Linked DNA regions of Homo sapiens: regions 2 and 3 are each linked to region 1. Evidence: fine-mapped expression QTL. A gene starts in region 1. Each other region holds a variant in brackets. All regions are shown on one strand. Distances are from middle to middle.

Evidence for each region.
Region 2: its variant is fine-mapped to the expression of TSNAXIP1 in thyroid (GTEx, PIP 0.97).
Region 3: its variant is fine-mapped to the expression of TSNAXIP1 in aorta (GTEx, PIP 0.93).

Annotation. Positions count from the first base shown.
Region 1 is chr16:67,804,716-67,809,937 of GRCh38, forward strand. TSNAXIP1 (translin associated factor X interacting protein 1) reads left to right here and starts at 2,174. Exons shown (of 16, transcript NM_001288990.3): 1 at 2,174-2,481. The coding sequence starts at 2,435. RANBP10 (RAN binding protein 10) reads right to left here and starts at 1,845. Exons shown (of 14, transcript NM_020850.3): 1 at 1,587-1,845; 2 at 713-824. The coding sequence starts at 1,821. RefSeq lists enhancers at 968-1,588, 1,589-2,208, 1,914-2,143 and silencers at 1,564-1,783, 2,284-2,403.
Region 2 is chr16:67,781,347-67,786,568 of GRCh38, forward strand. The region is part of intron 2 of RANBP10 (RAN binding protein 10); the gene reads right to left. Among named protein-coding and RNA genes, the nearest start is that of RANBP10, 23 kb to the right of the region's middle. RefSeq lists an enhancer at 114-263. The variant A/G (reference allele first, on the strand shown) is at 3,005.
Region 3 is chr16:67,638,702-67,643,923 of GRCh38, forward strand. CTCF (CCCTC-binding factor) reads left to right here. Exons shown (of 12, transcript NM_006565.4): 12 at 1-476. Among named protein-coding and RNA genes, the nearest start is that of CARMIL2, 3.8 kb to the right of the region's middle. The variant TA/T (reference allele first, on the strand shown) is at 2,805.

The sequences.
Region 1 (5,222 bases):
ACAGGGTTTCAGCATGTTTGCCAGGCTAGTCTCCAACTCCTGACCTCAGGTGATCTGCCCATCTTAGCCTCCCAAATTGCTGGGATTACAGGCGTGAGCCACCGTGCCTGGCTCCTAATGCTGACTTTAATGAGGACCTTCCTAAAGTTGATCCAACTAGTAGTGTTCAAGTCCTTGGACTGAAAAACAAGTTTATGAGCAGCAAGGTCACCTGATTCTGATCATGTGTATGCTGTTTACCCTGAGATGACAGGCCGGTGGCCACAGAAGCTTTCATGAATGCTGCAAAGACTCTACTATCTCTTTGAAGGCTACCAGGGCCTCCACATGACTAAATGCCATAAAAAAGAACCTCATGAATACAGCAAGAATGTGAAAGGAAGGAAGTCACAAAAACACCACATGCTCATGAGGGAAACTCCATTCTGGACACTAAATTTTTAAAGTAAACTTGTTACTTGTTTGCCTAACCTTCTAGGTATCAAATTACATCATCACTAAAAATAATCCCTGCTTTACCCCCAACACACCCACTGGCCATCAAGATCTGCTGCTTAGACCAGACCATGCCCACAGTCAGGAAATAATGGCAGCCCAGACCCATGCGGCTCCCCAGCTCACATCAGCAACAAGTGCCAGCCAAAGGACCTGAACTCTGACCACAGGGATCAGCTCCATGATCAGGGAAAGAGGGTGGTCATGAAGGGCTTACCCATCTCTTCCTTTGCTGACAATCTTCACTTCAAAGTAATAAATGCCACAGGCAGCAGGTATGGGGTGGGTGGCACGCACTGAGGCCGCATCTTTGTGATTTTTGCCATGACCTAACAGGAGAGGGCAAGTAAGAAATTTCAGCAGAAGGAAATGCAAATGGAAGCCTCATTTTTCTCTGCAACTCCTCCATGACAACTCCACTCCTCTGTGGCCAGAGGACGCACTTACACAGGCCGAGGAATCATTAGACAACTGAATAAACACTTAAACCTTCCACCTTTGCCTCACCTCCTCCTGAGAACAGCAGTCCTGCCTGAGACACTGCCCATACAAACAAAACAAGGGTAGAGGCAATGTGAGAGATACTCAAGTGCTGCTGGCAGCCTCTCTAGAATCCAGGCAGCCCACCTGGGAGGCCAGGGGAAGAAGGATGAGGCCGACCTGGAAGACACCCCCCAAACTCTAGCACGGAACCCCAGGCTCAGTCTAGGATGCCTGGCAGGTGGGGAAGCCCATGAGTCTCACGCTAATGGTAGGTATGTGACCACCCCTTTCTTCTAAGCAGTGGCGAAAGGTCCCGCTGCCGTTGGCGCCAGCCTAGGATAAGCACGGAGGCCCTGGAGTGGAAGGTCCGGCCCAGCACTGGGTTTGGACACCTGTTGCGGTTCTCTTGACGGCAGGTGTCTCAGGACAGAGAACAGGCAGTCAGCCCTCGGCCTGTTCAGCCTCACCACCCTGGACATCCTGAAAGGGCCAAGCCCTAACTTGGAGCACCTAGGCAGGGAAAGGGAGGTGATAGGGCGGGGGCCTGGCAGCAGAGCCACCCCACGGACGCTCTAGCCTTAATTCCCCCCAGCCTGACGGGCCGATACCTTTGTAGTGGACGCGGAGGTTGCCCTGGGAGAGACCAATGTAGTTGTATTTGTCCTTGGGGCTCCAGGAGCGCGGCAGCGGAGTCTCTTGCTGGTTGACCGCGGGATACAGGCGCTGCAAGCGCCGGCTCAGCTCCTGCTCCCCAGGGGACGGCAGCCCGCCCCCAGCGCCCCCGCCGGAGGAGTCCCCAGGCTGCGGGTTCCCAGCTCCCGGGTCTGCCGTCGCTGCCGCCATCTTGGAGGGAGCTACTATTGTGTCACTGGGGGCGGGGAGGAGCGGGACCAGATCCGCCCCGCTCAGCCAATGGCCCGTGAGCCTCCCTGGGCCGCAGGGAAACCGAGTCCGAGTCCGGCACCCCTCTTTGGACACTGACACGCCTTACCACATTTCGAACTCCATACCCCACAATGCAGAGCTCTCGAGAGGCGGAGCAACTCGGGCTGGTAGAGAATTCTGGGAGATGTAGTATAACCGTCCTCAGCCATAAGCCTGTCCCATCGAGACGTCGGGACACCGAAAACTACCATTCCCGCCGGCAAAGCGGCTCCGGCCTCTCAGCACACTTCCCTCCCCATGGCCTCTGTTCATCCCCCTGCCTCAGTTCTGGTACCTGGGGTCAAATCGGCTGTAGTGGTTGACTCTCAGGGCACCCGCTGCCGGGTCCCAGTCCACCTTTGCTACTTTGTCCTACTCCCAGCCCGCGGGCGCTAGGCTCGGGGGCGTGGCGCATCCCTGACTCCGCCCCCGCCGCGGGGGGGCCTCTGGGGCCTGGTCGCCATGGCGACCGGCTGTACGCTACCACAGCTTCCCAGGCCGCGGGTGCTGATTGCCCGCCTGCCCGTGGGTCATGGCCTGCCAGCAGTCGCGGTACCACAGCTTCTCGTCCGCGTCGAGGTAGGCGCTGGCAGGGATGAGGGCAGAGATGAGGGTTTGAGTACTTCTAGAGAGGGAAATGGCACTTGATCCGGACCTCTGCACCTCCTGCTGGCCTCTGACCATTGATCTAGGGCTCCAGCACCACAGAGTCAATGGTTAGAATCGGGCTGATTTAGCCCAGTGAAGACGTTACGTGCTAGCAAAACGGTAGGCGCACTTTATCATTACTAGTAACAACCAGCTTGTATTGAATGTACTATATGCCAAATGCTTTATATACCACATTTTTAAATATTTTATTTTTGAGACAAGATCTCGTTCTGTCGCCCAGGCTGGAGTGCAGTGGCACTACTACGGCTCACTGCAGCCTCGACCTCCCGGGCTCAAGCGATCCTTCTACCTCAGCCTCCCGAGTAGCTGGGACTACAGGCATGCGCCACTACGCTTGGCTAATTTTTGGGTGTTTCTTTGTTCGTTTGTTTTTTGTAGAGACGAGGTTTCACCACGTTGCCCAGGCTGGTTTCGAACTCCTAGACTCAAGCGACCCTCCCACTTCGACCTCTCAAACTGGGATTACAAGCGTGAACCCCCACACCCGGCCTACGTACCATATTTAATCCTCACAACAACTGTATAAAGTAGTAATATTACCATTGAACAAGTAAAGAAATACTTTAGAAGCCTGGAGAGATCATCCTCTGGGTAGCTTCTGCCTGTACTCAGGTGTATAGCCTCTGGGTACTGCAAAATATGACCAGCTCCATCAGCCTGGAGAGCCATACATACGGATTAAAACAAAAATTTTGGCTAAATCGTTTTCTAGTTTTGGGACTTCAGACAGGGCCCTTCAAGTTCCAGGCCTCAGCTTATATATCTCAAACATGGGAATGATACAGCCCACCCCACAAACATTGTTGGGAACATTTAGGCAGAATATGTGAAGCTCTTGACACAGCTCTTGTATGTAATAGGCACCCAGTAAGTGTTGAATGAATGTAGTGTCCCCCCTTCTACTCATTCCCAGTGGGGGAAAAAAAAAAAAACACCACCCAATCCCACCTAAACTCTTCAGGGTCTGCTGCCTTGACAGAGAAAAGCCTACAAAAGCCCCTAAGAGGCCAGGCACGGTGGCTCACGCCTATAATCCCAGCACTTTGGGAGGCCGAGGCGGGGGGATCACTAGGTCAGGAGATCGAGACCATCCTGGCTAACGTGGTGAAACCCGGTCTCTACAAAATACAAAAAATTAGCCAGGCATGGGGGTGGGCACCTGTAGTCCCAGCTACTCGGGAGGCTGAGGCAGGAGAATGGCATGAACCTGGGAGGCAGAGCTTGCAGTGAGCCGAGATCCTGCCACTGCACTCCAGCCTGGGCAACAGAGCGAGACTACGTCTCAAAAAAAAAAAAAATTTAGCCGGGCATGGTGGCAGGCACCTGTATTCCCAGCTACTTGGGAGGCTGAGGCAGGAGAATCGCTTGAACCAGGGAGGCAGAGGGCAGAGGTTGCAGTGAGCCAAGATCACGCCACTGCACTCTAGCCTGGGCGACAGAGTGAGACTCCGTCTCAAAAAAAGAAAAAAGAAAAAAAAGGAAAAAGAAAAGAGAGAGAGAGAAAGAGAATTGTTACCCAGCACAGGATTAATTTAGTAAACTGCCATTCTCTATGAAAAGGATATGAAGCAGACCCAGAAAGAGAATCCCCATTCATTTTAAGAAAGAAGCACAGGGCTGGTCATGATGGCTCATGCCTGTAATCCCAATACTTTGGGAGGCCAAGGTGGGAGGATCACTTGAGGTAAGGAATTCAAGACCAGCCTGGGAAACATAGTAAGACCCTGTCCCTACAAATAATAATAATAATAATAATAAAAGTTTCAGCTACTCAGGAGGCTGAGGCAGGAGGATTACTTGAACCCAGAAGTTCGAGAGGGTGTAGTGAGCTGTGATCACACTAGTGCCTTGTAGCCTGGGCAACAAAGCAAGACCCTGTCTATTAAAAAAAAAAAAATGGCCGGGCGTGGTGGCTCACGCCTGTAATCCCAGCACTTTGGGAGGCCAAGGTGCGCGGATCACGGGGTCAAAAGATCGAGACAATCCTGGCCAACATGGTAAAACCTTGTCTCTACTAAAAATACAAAAATTAGCCAGGTGTGGTGGCTTGCACCTGTAGTCCCAACTACTCGGGAGGCTGAGGCAGGAGAACCCAGGAGGTGGAGGTTGCAGTGAGCCCAGATCATGCCACTGCACTCCAGCCTGGCAGCAGAGTGAGACTCCATCTCAAAAAAAGAAAGAAAATCAGCCAGGCATGGTGACCTGTGCCTGTAATCCCAGCTATTCTGGAGGCTGAGGCACAAGAATTGCTTGAACCCAGGAGGAGGAGGTTGCAGTGAGCTGAGATCTTGCCACTGCATTCCAGCTGCCTGGGAGACACAGCAAGACTCCGTCTCAAAAAAAAATAAATAAATAAATAAATAAATAATACAGGCCGGGAGCAGTGAGTGGCTCATGCTTGTAATCCCAACACTTTAGGAGTCTGAGGTGGGTACATCATTTGGGGTCAGGAGTTCAAGACCAGCCTGGCCAACATAGTGAAACCCCATCTCTACTAAAAATACAAAAACTAGCCAGGCGGTAGTGGCATGCACCTGTAATCCCAGCTACTCAGGAGGCTGAAGCAGGAGAATCGCTTGAACCTGGGAGGCGGAGGTTGCAGTGAGCCGAGATCGGGCCACTGCACTCCAGTCCGGGCAAGAGAGTGA
Region 2 (5,222 bases), 23 kb before region 1:
CTAGAAACACTCACAGATACAACCTGCCTGGGTCAGCCTGGGAGGGAGGGCGGCAACAAGGGCTTTTACTCCCGGAGCAGGTGACTAGAATAGATAGAGCAGCTTAGCTCCCAACACTTCTCTACCAGGGCCTTCTTTTCTAACTGCAGGATATATTTCAGGAGCTGGGGAGAGGGAATTATTTACGCTATGACACAGGTGAAAGTAAGGTAAAGCCATCTGATTTACTCCTTTCTTCTATATGGCAGCAAAGTGGAGAAGAAATATCATGCCAGAGAGGTGAGACAGGAAGCACAGAGAGGCAACAGACAAGCTCTTCGTGGCAGTGAGGCCATGAGTAGGCCTGTAACTTCTCAGTTCCTACCGTTGCCTGCCAAAACCACAATGCAAGGTGGAGATACGAGAACAGCTATTCTGCCCTATCTAGCTCAAGAGAGAAGAGGGCAGCAAATAGGCACTGCTTGGGACAAGTGGAGTCGAGATCCACCAGAACACAAGATAGAGAAGAAGCAACCGCACCTGGAAGCAGGCAGCAAAGGCCCACAGGTGTCCACACTCACAAATCCACCCAGAAGCTCCCACTATCCACTGCAACTGGCAGGGGGTCCATGCTGCCACCCGAGCAAGGGGGTCCACCCAGCCCTGCCACCCGAGCTCAAGTCTGCTGAAACCCTGCAGTCATGTGGAGAGCTGCAAGCACAGTCCAGTCCTCTTGGATTCCTTTTTCTCTTTGCTTTTCCAGATTTTCTACAACTAACACAAATTACTTTTTACAATTTTTAAATTTTAATTTCTATTTTTAGTTTTTATTTGAGACAGGGTCTCACTCTGTCTCCCAAGCTGGAGTGCAATGGTGAGACCTTGCTCACTGCAACCTCTGCCTCCCAGGCTCAAGCCATCCTCCCACATCAGCCCCCTGAATAGCTGGGACCATAGGTGAGTGCCACCACACCTGGGTAGTTTAGAGATGGGGATTTGCCCTGTTGCCTAGGCTAGTCTTGAACCCCTGAGCTCAAGCGATCAGCCTGCCTTGGCCTCCCAAAATGCTTGGATTACAAGTGTGAGCCACCGTACCCAGCCAATTATTTTATTTTATATTTTATTTTATTTTATTATTTTTTTAGAGACGAAGTCTTGCTCTGTCACCCAGGCTGGAGTGCAGTGCCGCGATCTTGGCTCACTGCAACCTCTGCCTCCCAGGTTCAGGCAATTCTCCTGCATCAACTTCCCAAGTAGCTGGGACTACAAGGCGTGCGCTACCACACCCAGCTAATTTTTGTATTTTTCAGTAGAGATGGGGTTTCACTATATGTTGGCCAGGCTGGTCAACTCCTGACCTCATGTAATCCGCCCAGCTCGGCTTCCCAAAGTGCTGGGATTACAGGCATAAGCCACCGTGCTGGGCCAAAAATCACTTTTAAGAGCCATCTCTTAAAAGCCACTTTTAAGAGCCATCTCTTAAAAGCCACTTTTAAGAGCCATCTCTTAAAAGCCACTTTTAAGAGCCATCTCTTAAAAGCCACTTTTAAGAGCCATCTCTTAAAAGCCACTTTTAAGAGTAATGGCTACATACTGCAGAGGTTTTTGGCTCTCACTCATCAGACTCTCTCTGGATCACCCCAGGACATTTCAGTGATGGGGGACACATTAGGGAACGTGGCTTTCACAGTCAGCTCCTTGGTCCACCTAGCACCCCGAGTCTTGACAGAAGGGCAGAGGCTGCATCACAACAGTACAGCTTCAGAAACAGTCAAAATCCTTGCTGAGCAGAGGCCCTGAGGTTCCGGCTCACATGGCACCTAGTATGTCCCAAGCTGGGCACAGAGCACACACGCAGGAGACCCTGCTGCAGTGAGACAGATTTGGCACAGCTCCAACTGACTAGAGTTTCTTCTGCGACCCAGGCAGGCCTGGTGGTGGACAGAGGACAGAACTTTAGAAACCAGGGCCACCTGACTCTCACACCTCCCAGATATGTACAAGGCCACGGGAAGGAGACGACCCCTTTACTGTACTCTACCACCCAGTCCTGATAACAAGTTTGAGAACCCTGCACAGAGAACCCCTTTGGCAACAAGTCTGACTTCCCCTCCTGCCTCCTGAAGAGTTCTGAGGTGACAAGAACACTTCACAGCAGGGCTCCAAACACAACACCCTTGACTCTAAAAGGCTGGTCTCAGACACTCCAGCCTAATTCAAGACTATGGGTCTTAGATTTCAACCCACATATCAGGTTCCTTATTAGAGGAGGAAAGGTTAAACCAAAGGCTCCTAAGCTCCTTCCCAGCTTTGACCTAGACTTCAATTCTTCACAGAAAAATGTCTGTGCACATTGTAAATGTGCAGTGCCCAGATGCAAACCCAAGATGAGGAAGACCCTGGAACAGCAATCAAAAAGCCACTAAGAAGACATCAGGCTGAGTGCGGTGGCTCACGCCTATAATCCCAGCACTTTGGGAGGCCAAGGCAGGTGGATCACAAGGTCAGGAGTTCAAGACCAGCCTAGCCAAGATGGTAAAACCCCATCTCTACTAAAAATACAAAAAAATTAGCCGGGCGTGCTGACGGGTGTCTATAATCCCAGCTACTCGGGAGACTGAGGCAGAGAAGTGTTTGAACCTGGAAGGTGGAGGTTGCAGTGAGCCAAGATGGCGCCACTGCACTCCAGCCTGAGTGACAGAGAGAGAGACTCCGTCTCAAAAAAAAAAAAAAAAAAAAGACATCAAAGGAAAAGAAAGTTATAGAGCAATATAGATGAATATAGATGCAAAAATCCTTAATAGAATAGTAGCAGACCAAATCCAACAGTGTATTAAAAGGATTATATACCACAACCTAATGGGATTTATCCCAGAAAGGCAAGGATGGTTCAACATAAGAAAATCAGGTGGAGGCCGGGAGAGGTGGCTCACGCTTGTTAATTCCAGTATTTTGGGAGCCCAAGGCGGGTGGATCATTTGAGGTCAGGAGTTTGAAACCAGCCTGACCAACATGGTGAAACCCT[A/G]TCTCTACTAAAAATACAAAATTAGGCCAGGCCTGGTGGCTCACGCCTGTAATCCCAGCACTTTGGGAGGCCAAGGCGGGAGGATCACCTGAGGTTGGGAGTTTGAGACCAGCCTGACCAACATGGAGAAACCCCGTCTCTACTAAAAATACAAAATTAGCCGGGCGTGGTGGCCCATGCCTCTAATCCCAGCTACTCTGGAGGCTGAGGCAGGAGAATCATTTGGACCTGGGAGGTGAAGGTTGCGGTGAGCCAAGATCGAGTCATTGCGCTCCAGCCTGGGCCACAAGAGTGAAACTCCATCCCAAAAAAAAAAAAATTAACCTAGCTTGGTGGTGTATGCCTGTAATCCCGGCTACTCGGGAGGCTGAGGCAGGAAAATCGCTTGAACCCGGGAGGCGGAGGTTGCAGTAAGCCGAGATTGAGCCATTGCACTCCAGCCTGGGTGACAAGAGCGAAACTCCATCTAAAAAAAAAAAAGAAAAAGAAAAGAAAAGAAAATGATCTAAATATAAGAGGTAAGGCCCTGGGCCAAAAATCTGGCACTGGCCCAGTAGCACTTAAAAAAAAAAAAATAGGCTGGGTGCGGTGGCTCACGCCTGTAATCCCAGCACTTTGGGAGGCCGAGGCGGGCAGATCACCTGAGGTCAGAAGTTTGAGACCAACCTGGCCAACATGGTGAAACCCCATCTCTACTAAAAATACAAAAAAAGTAGCCAGGCGTGGTGGCAGGTGCCTATAATCCTAGCTACTCGGGAGGCTGAGGCAGGAGAATCACTGGAACCCTGGAAGAGGAGGTTGCAGTGAGCCGAGATCGTGCCACTGCATTCCATCCTGGGTGACAGATCGAGAGTCGGTCTCAAAAATAAATAAATAAATAAAAAAGAAAGAAAGAAAGAAGGGAGGGAGGGAAGGAAGGGAAAAACTAAAATAAAAAGGAAAGAGCCAAAACCATAAAATTCTTAGAAGAAAGCGTAAGGGTAAATCTTCATGACCTTTGATTTCACAATGGATTTAGAGATGATACAAAAAGGATGAACAAAAAGAAAAATACATGAATTGGACTTAATTAATATTAAAACTTCTGTGCATCAAAAGACATCATCGGGGCTCATGCCTATAATCCCAGCACTTTGAGAGGCTGAGGCAGGCGGACCACTTGAGGTCAGGTGTTCGAGACCAGCCTGGTCGACATGGCAAAACCCCGTCTCCACTAAAAATACAAAAATTAGCCAGGTATGGTGGTCCATGCCTGTAATTCCAGCTACTCAGGAGGCTGAGGCAGGAGAATCACTTGAACCCGGGAGGCAAAGGTTGCAGTGAGCTGAGATCACACCACTGCACTCCTGCCTAGGAAACAGAGTGAGTGAGACTCCATCTCAAAAAAAAAAAAAAAGCCAGGCACAGTGGCTCACGCCTATAATCCCAACACTTTGGGAAGCCAAGGTGGTGGATCACAAGGTCAGGAGATCGAGACCATCCTGGCTAAAACGGTGAAACCCCGTCTCTACTAAAAATACAAAAAATTAGCCGAGCATGGTGGCAGGCGCCTGTAGTCCCAGCTACTCGGGAGGCTGAGGCAGGAGAATGGCGTTAACTTGGGAGGCGGAGCTTGCAGTGAGCGGAGATCAGAGCGAGACTCCATCTCAAAAAAAATAATAATAATTAAAAAAAAAAAAAGACATCATCAAGAGGCCAGGCATGGTAGCTCACATCTGTAATACCAGTGCTTTGGGAGGCTGTGGAGGCAGGAGGACTGCTTGAGCCCAGGAGTTCAAGACCAGCCTAGGCAACATGGCAAGACCCCATCTCTACAAAAAATTTAAAATTTAGCCAGTCATGGTGGCATGCACCTGTAGTCCCAGCTACTTGGGATGCTGAGGTGGAAGGATCACTTGAGCCCAGGAGGTTAAGTCTGCAGTGAGCCAAGATTGCACCACTGCACTCCAGCCTGTGCGACAGAGCAAAAATCCATCTGAAAAAAATAAAAATAAAAATAAAAAATAAGAGAGTGAAAAGACAATCAATGGAATAGGAAAAAGTATTTGCAAATCATAGATCTGATAAGGGTTTAATATCAAAAATAAAGAATTCCTATAACTCAACAACAGAAAGACAAACAACCCAAACAGGCAAAGGACTTGAACAGACATTTCTCCAAAGAATCTATACAGATAGCCACATACAATAAGCACATAACAAGATCCTCAACATCACT
Region 3 (5,222 bases), 170 kb before region 1:
ATCGACATTTTCTTTGCCCTGTTTGTAGCTGATTGTTGTGTTTTATAAATCTTCTGTTAAGGCAGAAGGGTGATTATGAGTGGTTCACAGCAGCCCTTATAAGCTGGGCCAGAAAATTTCACTAGGTCAGTAATTTAAACCTTGGATCTTCAAAAAATAAAATAATGTGAAGCAAAACCAACTAAAAAGTGATTCTTGCACATGAACTGTCACATGTTTAAAAATGTGTTTTTTAGAGAGCCTCAGTCTTACTGATTTCAAACACTTTTTTCTTCTGTGTATTGCTTTTAAGAGAGCCATCAGTTAGCTATCAGACTCTAGGTTGATGCATTTTGTACTTAGCTGTACTGTGTGATATTTTTCATTATTTTAGGACGCCAACATGAGACCTGTAATAAAATATGTAATGGGGTTGAAAGCTGGGGAGGAGGATCTACTGCTGTACAGCTAATAAATCATAACGGATTAACAAGTGCTCCAAAGACTCCATCTTGCGTGATTCCTGCCTGCTTGAGGGAGGCTGGGGGGCTGCATACATGGTTCCAGGCTGTGCAGGCTGCTGCCTTTCACAGGCAACCTCTGTTCCCTGGGATGGTACTTTCTCTAGCAGATGGGACGATATGATCTTGGCGGGTGACTGGATATTGAGCGCATCCTGCTGTAACTGTTTTTTTGTTTTGTTTTGTTTTGTTTTGTTTTGTTTGAGATGGAGTCTCGCTCTGTTGCCCAGGCTGGAGTGCAGTGGCGCAATCTCAGCTCACTGCAACCTCCACCTCCCAGGTTCACGCCATTCTCCTGCCTCAACCTCCCGAGTAGCTGGGACTACAGGCGCCTGCCACCATGCCTGGCCAATTTTTTGTATTTTTAGTAGAGACTGGGTTTCACTGTGTTAGCCAGGATGGTCTCGATCTCCTGACCTTGTAATCCGCCTGCCTAGGCCTCCCAAAGTGCTGGGATTACAGGCGTGAGCCACCACACCCGGCCCCTGCTGTAACTTCTTAACTCCCCAAAATGTGTGTCTAAGTAGACAGGTGAGTAGATGGACAGCAGCCAGCTTCCATGATCCACTTGAGGAGTAAGTGCCCCATGCACAGAGTAGATGGGGCGTAGAGCTGCTTAGAGTGAAAGGGGCTGAGGGGAAGCTGGTCTACTCAGGCTCTCAGCTCAAGGAGGCCTAGGATCAGATGTACCTGGAGCTCTGCCAGGTGTGAGGGAACAGAGAGGAGCTGGGCCCAGTCTGCCCTAGAGAAGTTCATTTGAAAGGAGAGACAGATGCACAACCACCGAGTAGTGAAGAGACCGTCTTAGATAATAGAGCTGCCTGGTAGCACTTCAGGAAGGTGGTTGGAAAGGGAGTTGTGTCGTGTTTGGAATCTTAGGCGTGAGTGGAAAATTATCTTGCTGCTGCTGCCATTCCTAGGCAGATTGCTTTGGCAAACCCACTTGAGGTGAAAGCTTAAACCACTTGAGTTTTTTAACCTAAATTCCAACTTAGGAGTTGTCAATTAGAAGTAACAGAGCAAAATGTGTGAAGCTTTTAGCTGGCTAGTGCTGTCCACACAGATGGGTCTCCCAGGAAAACGACCCAGGGCCTCCTGGGGCCTCGGGACTCAGCCAGGCAGTTAACTCGTTGGTCTGAAAGTTAGTGGTCTCAGGCTGTTGGAGCTTGAGTTCTCTATCCCATCCACGGGTTTACCCGCCAGGGTACCCCCTACCAGCCAGCCAAAACTTTTTTTCTTTTTTTCTTTTTTTTTTTTGAGACGGAGTCTCGCTCTGTCACCCAAGCTGGAGTGCAGTGGCACAATCTTGGATCACTTCAACCTCCACCTCGGGTTCAAGGGATTCTCCTGCCTCAGCCTCCTGAGAAGCTGGGATTACAGGCACCCACCACCACACCTTGCTAATTTTTGTATTTTTAGTAGAGATGGGGTTTCACCATGTTGACCAGGCTGGTCTGGAACTCCTGACCTCAGGTGATCTGCCCGCCTCGGCCTCCCAAAGTTCTAGGATTACAGGCATGAGCCACCACACCCGGCCCCAACTTTTTTTTAATTCCAAGTTTTTTTTGAGACAGGGTCTCACTCTGTCACCTAGGCTGGGATGTGGTGGCACAATCAGCTCACTGTGACCTTGAACTAGGCTCAAGCAATCCTCCTACCTCAGCCTCCTGGATAGCTGGGACTATGGGCCATGCCATCACACCTGGCTCATTTTTGTTTTTTTTGTTTTTTTAGGGTTTTTTTTTTTTTTTTTTTTTTTAGAGATAGGATCTTGCTATGTTGCCCAGGCTAGTCTCAAACTCCTGGACTGAAGTGATCTTCCTGCCTCAGCCTCCAAAAGTGCTGGATTATAGGCATGAACCACCATTCCCAGCCACCTAAGCATATATAACCTCTTTGCAGAACAATGAGGCTCAGTTTTTCTGTATCTTCATTCAACACAGCCTGTCATTCCTGATTGTATACATTCTGTTTGAAAGGTTTTTGTTTGTTTGTTTGCTTGTTTGTTTGTTTTGAGATGGAGTCTCGGTCTGTTGCCAGGCTGGAGTGCAGTGGCGTGATCTCGGCTCACTGCAACCTCTGCCTCCCAGTTTCAAGCAATTCTCCTGCCTCAGCCTCCCCAGTAGCTGGGAATACAGGCACGCACCACCACACCTGGCTAATTGTATTTTAATAGAGACGGAGTTTCACCATGTTGGCCAGGATGGTCTCAATCTCCTGACCTCATGATCCGCCCGCCTCGGCCACCCAAAGTGCTGGGATTACAGGCGTGCACCACCATGCCCGGCCCTCTGTTAGAAAGTT[TA/T]AAAGTTTAAAAGTAGCCTCCCAGCTACTTGGGAGGCTGAGGCAGGAGAATTGCTTGAACCCGGGAGGCGGAGGTTGCAGTGAGCCAAGATTGCGCCACTGCACTCCAGCCTGGGTGACAGCGAGACTCCGTCTCAAAAAAAAAAAGTTTAAAAGTGGATTTGTTTTAGCTGGAGAGGGGGCAAGAGAATTGACATCCTGATGGAGTTAAGGCTGAAAAGGGATCCTCCTGCTGCATAGCCCAGGATGCATCCTGTCTGTCCCTTAATTATAAAACATTCAGCAGCAGAAGCCAGTTGTGTTACTGCTTCTGTTGACAGGGAAGTTCCTGAACCTGCATGCAGCTCCCTCAGTGTTAAGCCACAGAAGTAAAGAACCTTTGCCCCTTTCACCCCTAGGCTGGCATCACCCTATTGCTGCCCAGCTCAGCAAGTACCTGAACCCTTCTCTGACTTGTCAGGACCTGGTCTTTGAAAATCATCTGTGGTGAGCCTTATGGCAGCACCAAGGGGGCATAGCCCGGCCCACCTGGGAGGCAAGTCTCGCCCTCAGCCTGTGCTACCCAGAGCAGGCGAGGCTGATGCTCTCGGGAGCTTTGACATTTCCTGAATGCCCATGGAGTGGCATGCCATCCAGAACACAGACGGGCTTGAACAAGCTGACAGCTTCTCACTGAGTCACTGTCACTTGTAAGAACCGAGTCCCATGTGTTCACTTGGTCTCTGAGATCAGGTTTGCTGTGTTACTACCTCCCTGACCACCATCAGCCACGTGGCTAGCCCTGCAAGCCTGTCCAGATCTCTTAGTTGTCCCTGCCTGCCCCCATGTGCTCACACACACAGGGACTGGCCCCACTGGCATCGCTGCAGCCTCCAGAGGCCCTCCACCTGGGCATGGCTCCAGCCCTTTTGGCAGTCACTCTCATTTCTCTCTCCTCCTTGTCATTCTAAACAGAAAAATCCCAGTGAGGTGGATTTTCTGCCATTCTGTTTTGGAATCCCTGGGTTGTCATGGTAGACTTGGCAAATGTGAGTGTTATCTGAGTGCCAGGCACTGTTGCGGGCACTTCCCTTAATAAACATTGAATCCTTTGAGCAAGGCTTGAGGTTAGTTAATAGCTCCGGCTTACAAACAAAACTGGAAGACCAGAAAGGCTAAGCAATGTGTTCAGTGTCAAAATCTAGGCAGTGTGCCTGCAGAACCTGCTTTTTTTTTTTTTTGAGACGGAGTCTTGCTCTGTCGCCCAGGCTGGAGTACAGTGGTGAGATCTTGGTTCACTGCAACCTCTGCCTCCTGGGCTCAAGCAATGCTCATGCCTCAGCCTCCCCAGTAGCTGGGACTACAGGTGCCCACCACCACGCTTGGCTAACTTTTTGTATTTTAGTAGAGACAAGGTTTCACCATGTTGGCCAGGTTGGTCTCGAACTCCTGAGCTCAGGCGATCCACCTCGGCCTCCCAAAATGCTGGGATTATAGGCATGAGCCACTACACCTGGCCAGAACCTGCATTCTTGGTTCCTTGGCAGTACTGTGTGAGACCTACTGAATTGTCACCCTACAAGCAGTTTGAGGGTTCTGTGTGGTCTTAGAGCCTTAGATCTTAATCCAAATTATGTCTCTTCGTGGCCAGGCATGGTGTCTCACGCCTGTAATCCCAGCACTTTGGGAGGCCGAGGTGGGCAGATCACCTGAGGTCAGGAGTTGGAGACCAGCCTGACAAACATGGTGAAACCCCGTCTCTACTAAAAACATAAAAATTCCCTGGGTGTGGTGGCACATGCCTGTAATCCCAGCTACTTGGGAGGCTGAGGCAGAAGAATTGCTTGAACCCAGGAGGCAGAGGTTGCAGTGAACCAAGATCGCCCTACTGCACTCCAGCCTGGGCAACAAGAGCGAAGCTCTGTCTAAAATAATAATAATAATAATGATAATAATAATAATAATAATTAGCCCAGGCATGGTGGTGGGCACCTGTAATCCCAGCTACTCGGGAGACTGAGGCAGGAGAATTGCTGGAACCTGGGAGGCGGAGGCTGCAGTGAACCAAGATCGCCCTACTGCACTCCAGCCTGGGCAACAAGAGCGAAGCTCTGTCTAAAATAATAATAATAATAATGATAATAATAATAATAATAATTAGCCCAGGCATGGTGGTGGGCACCTGTAATCCCAGCTACTCGGGAGACTGAGGCAGGAGAATTGCTGGAACCTGGGAGGCGGAGGCTGCAGTGAGCCAAGATTGTGCCACTGCACTCCAGCCTGGACCACAGAGCAAGACTCTATCTCAAAACCAACAAACAAACCAAGTATGTCTCTTCAATCGGGGAGGCAGCAGGAACTCTCTGTGCTGCATCTTCTGCAGCTGACTCCTCCTTGTCACCCTTAGCTGTCATTTCACCTCCACCTTGCTGAGCTATG